3 linked regions of the Homo sapiens genome follow. The protein of the gene in region 2 purifies or fractionates together with the protein of the main gene of each other region. This does not show direct contact. Each region holds a gene or a part of one and is shown on either strand. Other genes may lie near its edges. The genes, in order: LRP2, ZNF224 and NOTCH3.

What was found.
Region 1: the proteins of ZNF224 (region 2) and LRP2 purify together in Homo sapiens (affinity purification with mass spectrometry; 2 studies listed by BioGRID and IntAct, with this or other methods). This does not show direct contact.
Region 3: the proteins of ZNF224 (region 2) and NOTCH3 purify together in Homo sapiens (affinity purification with mass spectrometry; 2 studies listed by BioGRID and IntAct, with this or other methods). This does not show direct contact.

The regions. Positions count from the first base shown.
Region 1 is NC_000002.12:169,208,995-169,212,651, reverse strand, and holds part of LRP2 (low-density lipoprotein receptor-related protein 2 precursor), read left to right. Parts: intron 1-444; coding exon 445-684; intron 685-3,010; coding exon 3,011-3,199; intron 3,200-3,657. UniProt on the Homo sapiens protein: Multiligand endocytic receptor. Acts together with CUBN to mediate endocytosis of high-density lipoproteins. Mediates receptor-mediated uptake of polybasic drugs such as aprotinin, aminoglycosides and polymyxin B.
Region 2 is NC_000019.10:44,107,187-44,110,326, forward strand, and holds the end of ZNF224 (zinc finger protein 224), read left to right. Parts: coding exon 1-1,098; 3' UTR 1,099-2,640; downstream 2,641-3,140.
Region 3 is NC_000019.10:15,180,341-15,183,997, forward strand, and holds part of NOTCH3 (neurogenic locus notch homolog protein 3 precursor), read right to left. Parts: intron 1,462-3,657; coding exon 1,236-1,461; intron 823-1,235; coding exon 621-822; intron 489-620; coding exon 341-488; intron 1-340. UniProt on the Homo sapiens protein: Functions as a receptor for membrane-bound ligands Jagged1, Jagged2 and Delta1 to regulate cell-fate determination.

The sequences.
Region 1 (3,657 bases), on a different chromosome or scaffold from region 2:
TGAATAATAGTCTCCAGTTTCTTCCAAGTCACTGGGAATGCCATTAATTCCAGGACTATTCTTTAAATCTTATTTCATATATTTAAAAAAAATCACATTATTGATCATGTAACTGAACATATTATTTTAAGTGCCAGTTCATAGGCAAATTATGAGCAGATTTATATACTGACCTCCCTAATCCTCGCATGATTTGTAGAAGAAAACAAGTGAAGCCCCATTCTCTAACTATTATACAATAGTTGGGTTACTGGTTTCATACCTTTAGGTGTTATTGTATAAGCTCTAGTCTCTCCGATGTTGTTTTTAGATTGCTAACTCAGCTACTATATGTTGGTTATTAATTTTTAGAATAAATTATTTGGTGACCCAATTAAAGAAATTTGAGATGGGGTGGCGAGTAGCTAGGATCAAAAGTTACAAATGGATTTTGTTTTCATTTAGATGCCGCCGAATCCTCAAATGGCTGTAGCAACAACATGAATGCCTGTCAGCAGATTTGCCTGCCTGTACCAGGAGGATTGTTTTCCTGCGCCTGTGCCACTGGATTTAAACTCAATCCTGATAATCGGTCCTGCTCTCCATATAACTCTTTCATTGTTGTTTCAATGCTGTCTGCAATCAGAGGCTTTAGCTTGGAATTGTCAGATCATTCAGAAACCATGGTGCCGGTGGCAGGCCAAGGTATGCCAACTCCAATATAAGTAAGATTTGACTTCATCTGGCACCAGGTTGAAATCCCTGGTGCCATGAAAACATTTCTTCATGTGTGGATTCAGTGCATAATGAAGCTTTCCTTTCCCTTTAAATCAACTGGCACAGCCTAAAGTGTTTTTCAAACTTTAGTGTGTCTCAGAATCACCTGGAGGGCTCACGCCAACACAGCTCCAGACCTCGTCCCCAGATTTTTCTGATTTTGTAGTCTAGGGTAGGGCCAGAGAATCTGCACTCCTAATAAGCTCCCAGGGCATGCTGACGGTGCTGGCCCATGGATCACGCTAAGAACCACAGGCCCAGAGCAATATAGAATGTAGGATGGGTTTGCAAGAAGTACTACAGAGTTGGTGTTCCAAAGAACTGTGCCCTATTTCTGATTATTAATGGAGATTTATGGTAGAAGGTATACTACTATTTAATATGGTAATGAAATAGTCCACAAATATGATTTATTAATATATATTTGGTGAATTGAAGCAAAAGAGTTCACAGTGTCAGTCCCTCTTTAGTAATCATATTTTTGCAGCACTTTGTGCTTACATACTGTGAATGTATGAAACGATCACTTGCTTCCTAGATGAGCCAAGGTTTTTAGGTATACCTTAGCACAAGAGGAACTAAGAGTTTTCTAACATCGCTAGGAGAATGTCACAGGCTAAAGAGAGAAATAGAGGGTAGAAAGGAAGGAAAAAAGGATGAAGTCAATGAAGGGGTTGTAGAGATGGTCAGAAAATACAGAAATGCACCTGGAGAAGGGAATCAGAGAGCTTCCAGTCCCACACGTCCTCCTGCCTGATGGTCATGTTCACGTGGACCCATGACTCATCTTTGTTTTTCCATATCTAAAAAGTTATGGATCTAAGTTATCATCTTGTACAGATATGACAAATTCAATAGTTTTTTTCTCCCAGCTTTTCATTAAAAAAATGTTCAAACACAGAAACGTTGAAAGATTTAGGAAATATCCTTATACCCTTTACCAAGATTTAACAGTTGTTAACATTTCTTCACATTTGAGCTCTCAATTTGTATGTGTGTGTGTGTACATGCATATGCATTCACATTCATTTTTTATGAACCTTTTAAAAATAAATTTTAATACCATGCCACTTTACCCCTACATATGTTAGCATACAGTTTCAAAGGGCATTATGAAATATTCATAATCATATTTCTCCAGTTGGCCTCACAATATTTTATATATAGCTGTTTTGTTCCATCCAAGATCTAATCAAGATTCATGCACTGCACTGGGAATATCTCATTAGTTTCTTCCAGTTTGGAGTAGTTGCCTCTAGCTTTTTGCTATGACATTGATGTTTTAAAGAGGCAGACCTGTTGTCTTTGAGAATCCCACACTGAGGATTTGTCTGAATATTTAGTCTGTCTTTCATTTTTTACCCTGCAGTTCTCATGAAATGGAAGTTAGGTCTAATTGCTTGATTAGATCAAGGTTAAATACATTTAGCAATAATACTTTATAGGTTATGCTGTGTTAGTTGATACAGAATCTTATTAGGAAGAACATAATGTCAGCTTGCCCTGCTCTTAGTGGCATTTGAGTTTGATCACTTGGTTAAGGTGGTCACTGCTACACTGCTGCTTTTTAAAGCTGTATTTTTTTTCCTTCTTAATTTTGGTGGAATCTATGCAATCACACTTAGGCCCTGTGAATGTCTTGGCTCCCAAGCACCTTTTACCCATTGGTTTTGGCAGCCATGGATGATCCTTGTTTGAAATGATTATTTAATCGAGGATTGCAAAATGGTGATTTTCTTATTTTAGCATTCCCTTTACATTTGTTAGATAATATTCTTCTATAAAGGAAAGCTCTTCGTGTCTCCCCGGTTTACTTTTTAAATAATTTATTATTATTATGGGCTCAAATTTTTATTTTTTAAATTCAGTGTGTTACAGTCAATTACTGTAATCCTTCTTTTGATGTTTTAGTGGATCCATTTTGGCCAGGGAGAACCTCTTCAAGTGGCGACCTGTATATTTCTGTGTATGCCTTGTTTCTTGGTACAATAAGATGTTTCACACTCACTTCGTACCTTCCCTGCCTAAACCTATAATCAACATTTCTCCCGGGAGCCAGAGCTCCTTATTGTGGGAAAGAGTAGAAACCAAGATGTGGGTCTGCTCACTGCAACTGGGAAAAAAGGGTTTCATTTTGTAATGGGGAGATGCTCAGAGCAGGGGGTTGGGAATGAGGGTTTGAGAGGAAGGGCAGACATTTAAAAGTTCTAATTTCAGTGACAGCATTTTTTAATGATCTTTTCTTAACTTCCAGGACGAAACGCACTGCATGTGGATGTGGATGTGTCCTCTGGCTTTATTTATTGGTGTGATTTTAGCAGCTCAGTGGCATCTGATAATGCGATCCGTAGAATTAAACCAGATGGATCTTCTCTGATGAACATTGTGACACATGGAATAGGAGAAAATGGAGTCCGGGGTATTGCAGTGGATTGGGTAGCAGGTATGTAAGCTATATGGTGATTTTAATATGTTTGCATCTCTGTCATCTTATTTTATGCTAGAAAGTTTAGCCTAACTCCATGTGCTACAGGTTTGTTTTTCTAGACAATTATTAAGACCATTTAAGATACATTGAATCTAGATTAAGCTACGTGTCTATTTGATAAATGATACGGTGTTTCAGTTTACAGATTTATAACAAATTAATCCTTATCATTTTCTTCTGTTATTAACATAATCTGGAGACAAAAGTGGCTAAAATATTAAATTATGTGGATTTGTTTTTTTTACACTTAGATTTGCACCTGATTTCTGCATTAGAAATTTTCTAAATTTTCAAGAGAAAGAGATATAAAAATATAAACTATGGAACAGCATTCATTTGCTTTGAAGCTGAGCAATTTTAGTTGCCAAATTCTTAATTGCTTCCTTTTATTCATATATAAAAATCCCTTAGAT
Region 2 (3,140 bases):
CCATACAAATGTGAGGAGTGTGGAAAAGGCTTTATTTGTAGGCGAGATCTTTATACGCATCATATGGTCCACACGGGAGAAAAGCCATATAATTGTAAAGAGTGTGGGAAGAGCTTCAGATGGGCCTCGTGTCTTTTGAAACATCAGCGAGTCCACAGTGGAGAAAAACCATTCAAATGTGAAGAATGTGGGAAAGGATTTTACACAAATTCACAATGCTATTCCCACCAGAGATCCCATAGTGGAGAAAAACCATACAAATGTGTGGAGTGTGGGAAGGGCTACAAAAGGAGGTTGGATCTTGACTTTCACCAGCGCGTCCATACAGGAGAGAAACTGTATAATTGTAAGGAATGTGGGAAGAGCTTTAGTCGGGCCCCATGTCTTTTGAAACATGAGAGACTCCACAGTGGAGAAAAACCATTCCAATGTGAAGAGTGTGGGAAGAGATTTACTCAAAATTCACATCTTCATTCCCATCAGAGAGTTCACACTGGAGAAAAGCCATACAAATGTGAGAAGTGTGGAAAGGGCTACAATAGTAAGTTTAATCTTGATATGCACCAGAAGGTCCACACAGGAGAGAGACCATACAATTGTAAGGAATGTGGGAAGAGTTTTGGCTGGGCCTCGTGTCTTTTGAAACATCAGAGACTGCACAGTGGAGAAAAACCATTCAAATGTGAAGAGTGTGGGAAAAGATTTACTCAGAATTCACAGCTTCATTCTCATCAAAGAGTGCACACTGGAGAAAAGCCATACAAATGTGATGAGTGTGGGAAGGGCTTCAGCTGGTCCTCAACTCGTCTGACCCATCAGAGACGCCACAGCAGAGAAACACCTCTCAAATGTGAGCAGCATGGGAAGAACATTGTACAGAATTCATTCTCTAAAGTGCAAGAAAAAGTTCACAGTGTAGAAAAGCCATACAAATGTGAGGACTGTGGGAAGGGCTACAACAGGCGCTTGAATCTTGATATGCATCAGAGGGTCCACATGGGAGAGAAAACATGGAAGTGTAGGGAGTGTGATATGTGCTTTAGTCAGGCCTCAAGCCTTCGACTTCATCAGAATGTTCATGTTGGAGAAAAACCTTAGTGATGTGATGGTGCAATAAAGTCTTCACTCAGTCTTCATGAATGCAGTCTCATCTGAAAGTTCACAAAGGAGAGACACATTAAAATATGAGGCACATAGTAAGCACTTCCCTTTGAGTATTTTATCTCTGAATCCATGCTGGTGATAAATTTCACCCATTCTTGGAAGAGGGAAAACATTTGTTTAAGATAACATCAGTGCTTCAGCCATAGCTCAGCATGCCCCAGTAGTCTCAGGACCACCATAATGGAGAATCCTTGTAAATGGTGCAATAAAGCTTCATTCAGAAGTTTGATAATTACAGCTATCATTCAGGAGACAGGCCTTAGAAAGAGTAAGAGTTCATGAATTTACCAGACTAATGGTGGACATGTCCAAATTGATGTCCACTAGAATGTAAACTACATGTGTCTTTGCTGCTAAGTCGTCACAGCCTTAACATTGATTAGCACTTTGTATGTGTTCAGTACTTGTTTGTTAAATCAATGAAAGGATAAAACATATGTATGGATTTGGATACAATTTTGTGTATCCAAAAAGGGAAGCCTGCAAAAAATAATTCTGGGAAACATGAGTTGAAATGCAGAGTAAACTCAGTACTGCAATCCATAGCAATATTTTGCATATTATTATTTTTTCTTTTAAATTTTTTTCTTGATCAGATTTATCATATTCATTGAACATTATTTTATTGCACTTGGCTCCTGGCTTCCCCCCATCCTGTGCTCTGAAGTCAGAGTATTATTTGTGGCTCTATGAAATGTCCATTGCTTGTATACGGTATAAATTTAATTATCTTTTGTAGTTTTTCTCACAGTATAGACTGAAAAGGTTTGGTTAATTTTGCAATAACAGACCACTGCATATTTCACAATTAAGTGTTTTCAACAGTATTAAGGCAAGATTTACAGTAACACTTTTAAAGTGCCAGATGTACATTGACAGAAATTTTCTTAGTCAATCCTAGATTGATCATGATTTGTGATTTCTATGCAGGCCTTGGTATGATTGCCTTTTAATTGCTGTACAATTTCTTTTTTTTTTTTAACTTCTCTGGTATAAAATATTCTAAATTTGAATGACAGCTTTTGTCAACCTTCTTATCCAATATTCTTCCACCAACGCTATGAAACAGGAAGAGAAAATGGAGTTTGGTAATTTCATCAAATATATTCATTATTGGGGGCAGGAGTAACATTTAAATCCTCCTCTTTATTGCTGGCAGTAAAAATATGTCTTTTGGAGAGCAGAACATGCCAGAATGTATAAGGTGCAACTGTTTGATATGAAAACCATAGGATAGGAAACTATGCCTATGACACTAAAACTCCAAAAAGTAGAAGACCACATTGATGATGTCACTGCATTTTAAAATGGAAAGAACAAGTGTTCAAGAACAGGAATTTGTGTGAATTGCATTTATTCCTATAATAATATGAACTCAATGAGATGATGACATAGACACAATAACAAAAGGAGAAAAACAATGTGGCTTTTTTTAGCCTTCATAACCTAATCAAATAAATATCTTTGTGTGTTTTATGTTCTTTTGAGTGTTTACATACTGTGTAAATGAATATTTTTACTGATCTTTGCTGGCAATGAGTGTTTGCAGGCATTTTTCCATTTTATACTTCCATGCATTTTTAATTTTTTTATGCCACGATCTTTTAAACAACCAGCTCTTGTGTGAATTAAGAGTGCGAACTCATTCATTACCATGGTGGGGACACCAATGTTTATGAAGGATCTGCTTCCATGACCAAGCACCTTCCAATAGTCCCGACCTCCAACACTGGAGGTCATACTTCAACATGAGATTTGGAGGGGATACATATTCAAACTATTGTCAGATGTTAATTCATCAGGTATACACCATAGTAATATCTTAAGTGTGTTAAGTTAAAGTGATATATTTTCTAAGGTATAGAACAAATAGGGCTTATCACCCCCCTACAAGCAAAGAAAATGTCACAATGCTTAGTGTGCCATTTTTGATATTGGATGCAACTTATTGTTTCGATTGTGCTACTCTGACTTTT
Region 3 (3,657 bases), about 29 Mb from region 2:
TGGTGGAATGAGTCCCCAGGATCGCACCCACACTCCATCAGGTTGTCACACATCCCCCCAGCAGGCAAGGTCTCATCACTGACATACACACACATGCCTTCAACGCTCACAGCAGCTCGGTCACACCCTGTAGCACACACACCATCCCTGCTGTCTCACAGTGACAGACACACACCATCCCGGCCAGTTGTCACATGCTCACACACCCACACCACTCAGCCACACACCCCATCATGCCCCATAGGCTCTGTGGCACCCCCATTCGGCTCACACTAGCAGGAGGTACGTGCATGAGCCCCTTCCCAAGGCCCCACACGCCCGCCCACATGCTCCCACTCACCGATCTGGGCTGCGGCCTCCCTGCAGGGCAAGCTTCGGATGTCACAGAGGCGTCCGCTCCATCCAGGGGGACAAAGGCAATAGGCCCCAGTCTGGACGCAGCGACCCCCGTTTTGACAAGGCTGGCGGCTGCACCAATCCACCAGCGTCTGGAGGGGAAGCACTCAGAGTCAGTACTGTGGGGTGGGGGGTAGTCTGGGAGAAACTGTGCCCCGACTTGGCTTCTCCCTCCTAGGATCCCAGGCAGGCTCCTCCCCCAGGTCCCCAGTAACTCCACCCACCTGGCACTGCGGGCCCGTGAAGCTCTCGAGGCAGGTGCAGCGGAAGCCAGGGTGGGCGGCGCTGCAGACGCCCCCGTGTAGGCAGGGCCGCGAGAGGCAGGGGTCTGCCTCATGTTGGCAGTGGGCTCCTGTGTAGCCGGGACGGCACAGGCAGCTGAACGAGTTCACGCCGTCCACACAGGTCCCGCCATTGAAGCAGGAGCTGGAGCGGAAGGAGTGGGAGGGAGGATCAGGCTCCGCCCCCTCACAGGCCCTGCCCTCCTTCCTGAGTCCCGCTGTTAGCGCTGGGGACGTCCCACTCCCTGACCCTTATCTCGGCAAGAAGCTGCAGCCCCAGCAGAAGCCAATCAGGTCCCTTAGCTCCAATTCACCAGGGACTTCAGCCCTAAGGTGAGAGCCACCTGGAAGCCATGCCCTCTCAGGCACCAGAGACTCCAAGGTGAGCTCCAAACAGACGCCCTGCTCCTTCCCTGGCCCTGCCCCATCAGTCATCAGAGTCCGCAGTGGGTACCAAGCTGAGGACTCCCCCAAGTCGTTGCTGTCCCCACTTCGTCCCAGGTCCCAGGCCCCATCCCAAGCCAGAGTCCCTGCTCTCCAAGCAGAGGCCCCGCCCACCTGGGGCTGCAGTCGGGCAGGTCCTGTTCGCAGTGGAAGCCTCCGTAGCCTGGCGGGCAGGTGCAGGTGAAGGAGGCCACGTGGTCGGTACAGGTGCCCGGGCCGCAGGGGTTGCTCAGGCACTCATCCACATCGCGGGCGCATCGTGGGCCGGCGAAACCAGGGAGGCAGGAGCAGGAAAAGGAGCCCACGCCGTCTTGGCACGAGCCACCGTTCAGGCATGGGTCTGCGGACAGGAGGAAGGCGGTCTGGTCACCTACCTTGCCCCCATTAGCCCAGTCTGACTGGGATATGCCTTGGATTGAGAAGAATTCAGGAGGAAACCAGGTTCAACTGGGATGGGGTGCATTTGGTCAGAGGAATCTAAATCCATCCCCTTCTGTGGCCTCGTCCCCTCCTTTATCTGGAAACCTCACCTATGTGGCAAGGGCAGGATGTTGGGAAAACCAAAAGGTCCCTTTAAGCTGCCAAGCAAACGCTGCTAATTGTGCCTGATCTAATTCCTGTGCTTGGAACAGGACAAGGACAGTGGCCATTAGCCACATGTGGCTACTGAGTCCTTGAAATTGTGACTAAATGGAGATGTGCTATAAATGTAAAATACATACTGGGTTTCAGATTTTGAAGACTTGGTATGAAAAAAAAAATAGGCTGGGCGTGGTGGCACACACTTGTAATCCCAGCACTTTGGGAGGCCGAGGTGGGCAGATCACTTGAGCTCAGGAGTTCGAGACCAACCTGGGCAACATGGCAAGACCCCATTTCTATAAAAAATACAAAAATTAGCTGGGCATGATGGTGCACACCTGTAGTCCCAGCTAGTGGGGAGGCTGAGACGGGAGGATCACTTGAGCCTGGGAGGTCAAGGCTGCAGTGAGTCATGATCGCACCACTGCACTCCAGTCTGGGCGACAGAGTGAGAACTTGTCTCAAAAAAAAAAAAGGAAACAATGTAAAATATCTCATTAACAATTTTATACTGGTTACATGTTGAAATGATATGTTAATATATTGGGTTAAATAGATTATATACATTTATTTATTTATTTATTTATTTACTTTTATTTTTATTTTTATTTTTTTTGAGATGGGGTTTCGCTCTTGTTGCCCAGGCTGGAGTGCAATGGCACGATCTCAGCTCACCACAACCTCCGCCTCCCGGGTTCAAGTGATTCTCCTACCTCAGCCTCCTGAGTAGCTGAGATTACAGGCATGTGCCACCACGCCCAGCTAATTTTGTGTTTTTAGTAGAGACGGGGCTTCTCCATGTTGGTCAGGCTGGTCTCAAACTTCTGACCTCAGGTGATCCACCTGCCTCAGCCTCCCAAAGTGCTGGGATTACCGGTGTGAGCCACTGCGCCCAGCCGATTATATACATTCAATAAATTAAATTTAAATATATTAAATTTGGTCAGGCACAGTGGCAGCAGTCTGAGAGTCCAAGGCAGGAGGATGGCTTGAGGCCAGGAGTTTGAGACCAGCCTAGACAACGCAGTGAGACCCCATCTCTACAGAATTAAAATAAAAATATTAGCTAGGCATGTAGTGAGTGCCTGTAATCCTAGCTACTCAGGAGGTTAAGACAGGAGGAATGCCTCAGCCCAGGAGTTCGAGACTGCACTGAGCCAAGATCGCACCACTGCACTCCAGCCTGGGCGACAGAGCCTCACTCTGAATACATAATAAATAAATAAATATAAAATATTAAATTTAATATCTCCCATTTCTGTTTATTTTTTAATGTGGCTACTAGAAAATTTAAAATTGCATATGTGGCTTGTGTTATTTATCTGTTTGGCAGCACCCCTTTTTGTTTGTTTGTTTGTTTGTTTGTTCGTTTTTGAGACGGAGTTATGCCTTGTTGCCCAGGCTGCAGTACAATGACACAATCTCAGCTCACCGTAATCTCCACCTCCAAGGTTCAAGTGATTCTCCTGCCTCAGCCTCCCAAGTAGCTGGGATTACAGGCATGCGCCACCATGCCCTGCTAATTTTGTATTTTTAGTAGAGATGGGGTTTCTCCATGTTGGCCAGGCTGGTCTCAAACTCCTGACCTCAGGTGATCCGCCCACCTTGGCCTCCCAAAGTGCTGAGATTACAGGTGTGAGCCACCTCGCCCGGCCTCTGGGGGGCCTTTTATCTCATACTTTGCACATGATATTAACTCGATTGCTCTCAAAGACAGTGCACTTAGGTCGGGTGTGGTTGCTCACGCCTGTAATCCCAGCACTTTGGGAGGTGGAGACAGGTAGATTGCTTGAGCCCAGGAATTGGAGACCACCGTGGGCAACATGGCGAAACTCCGTCTCTACAAAAAACACAAAATATTAGCTGGGCGCTGTGGTGTGCGCCTATAGTCGCAGCCACTGGGGAGGCTGAGGTGCTTGAGCCCAGAAGGCAGAGGTTGCAGTGAGCGATGATT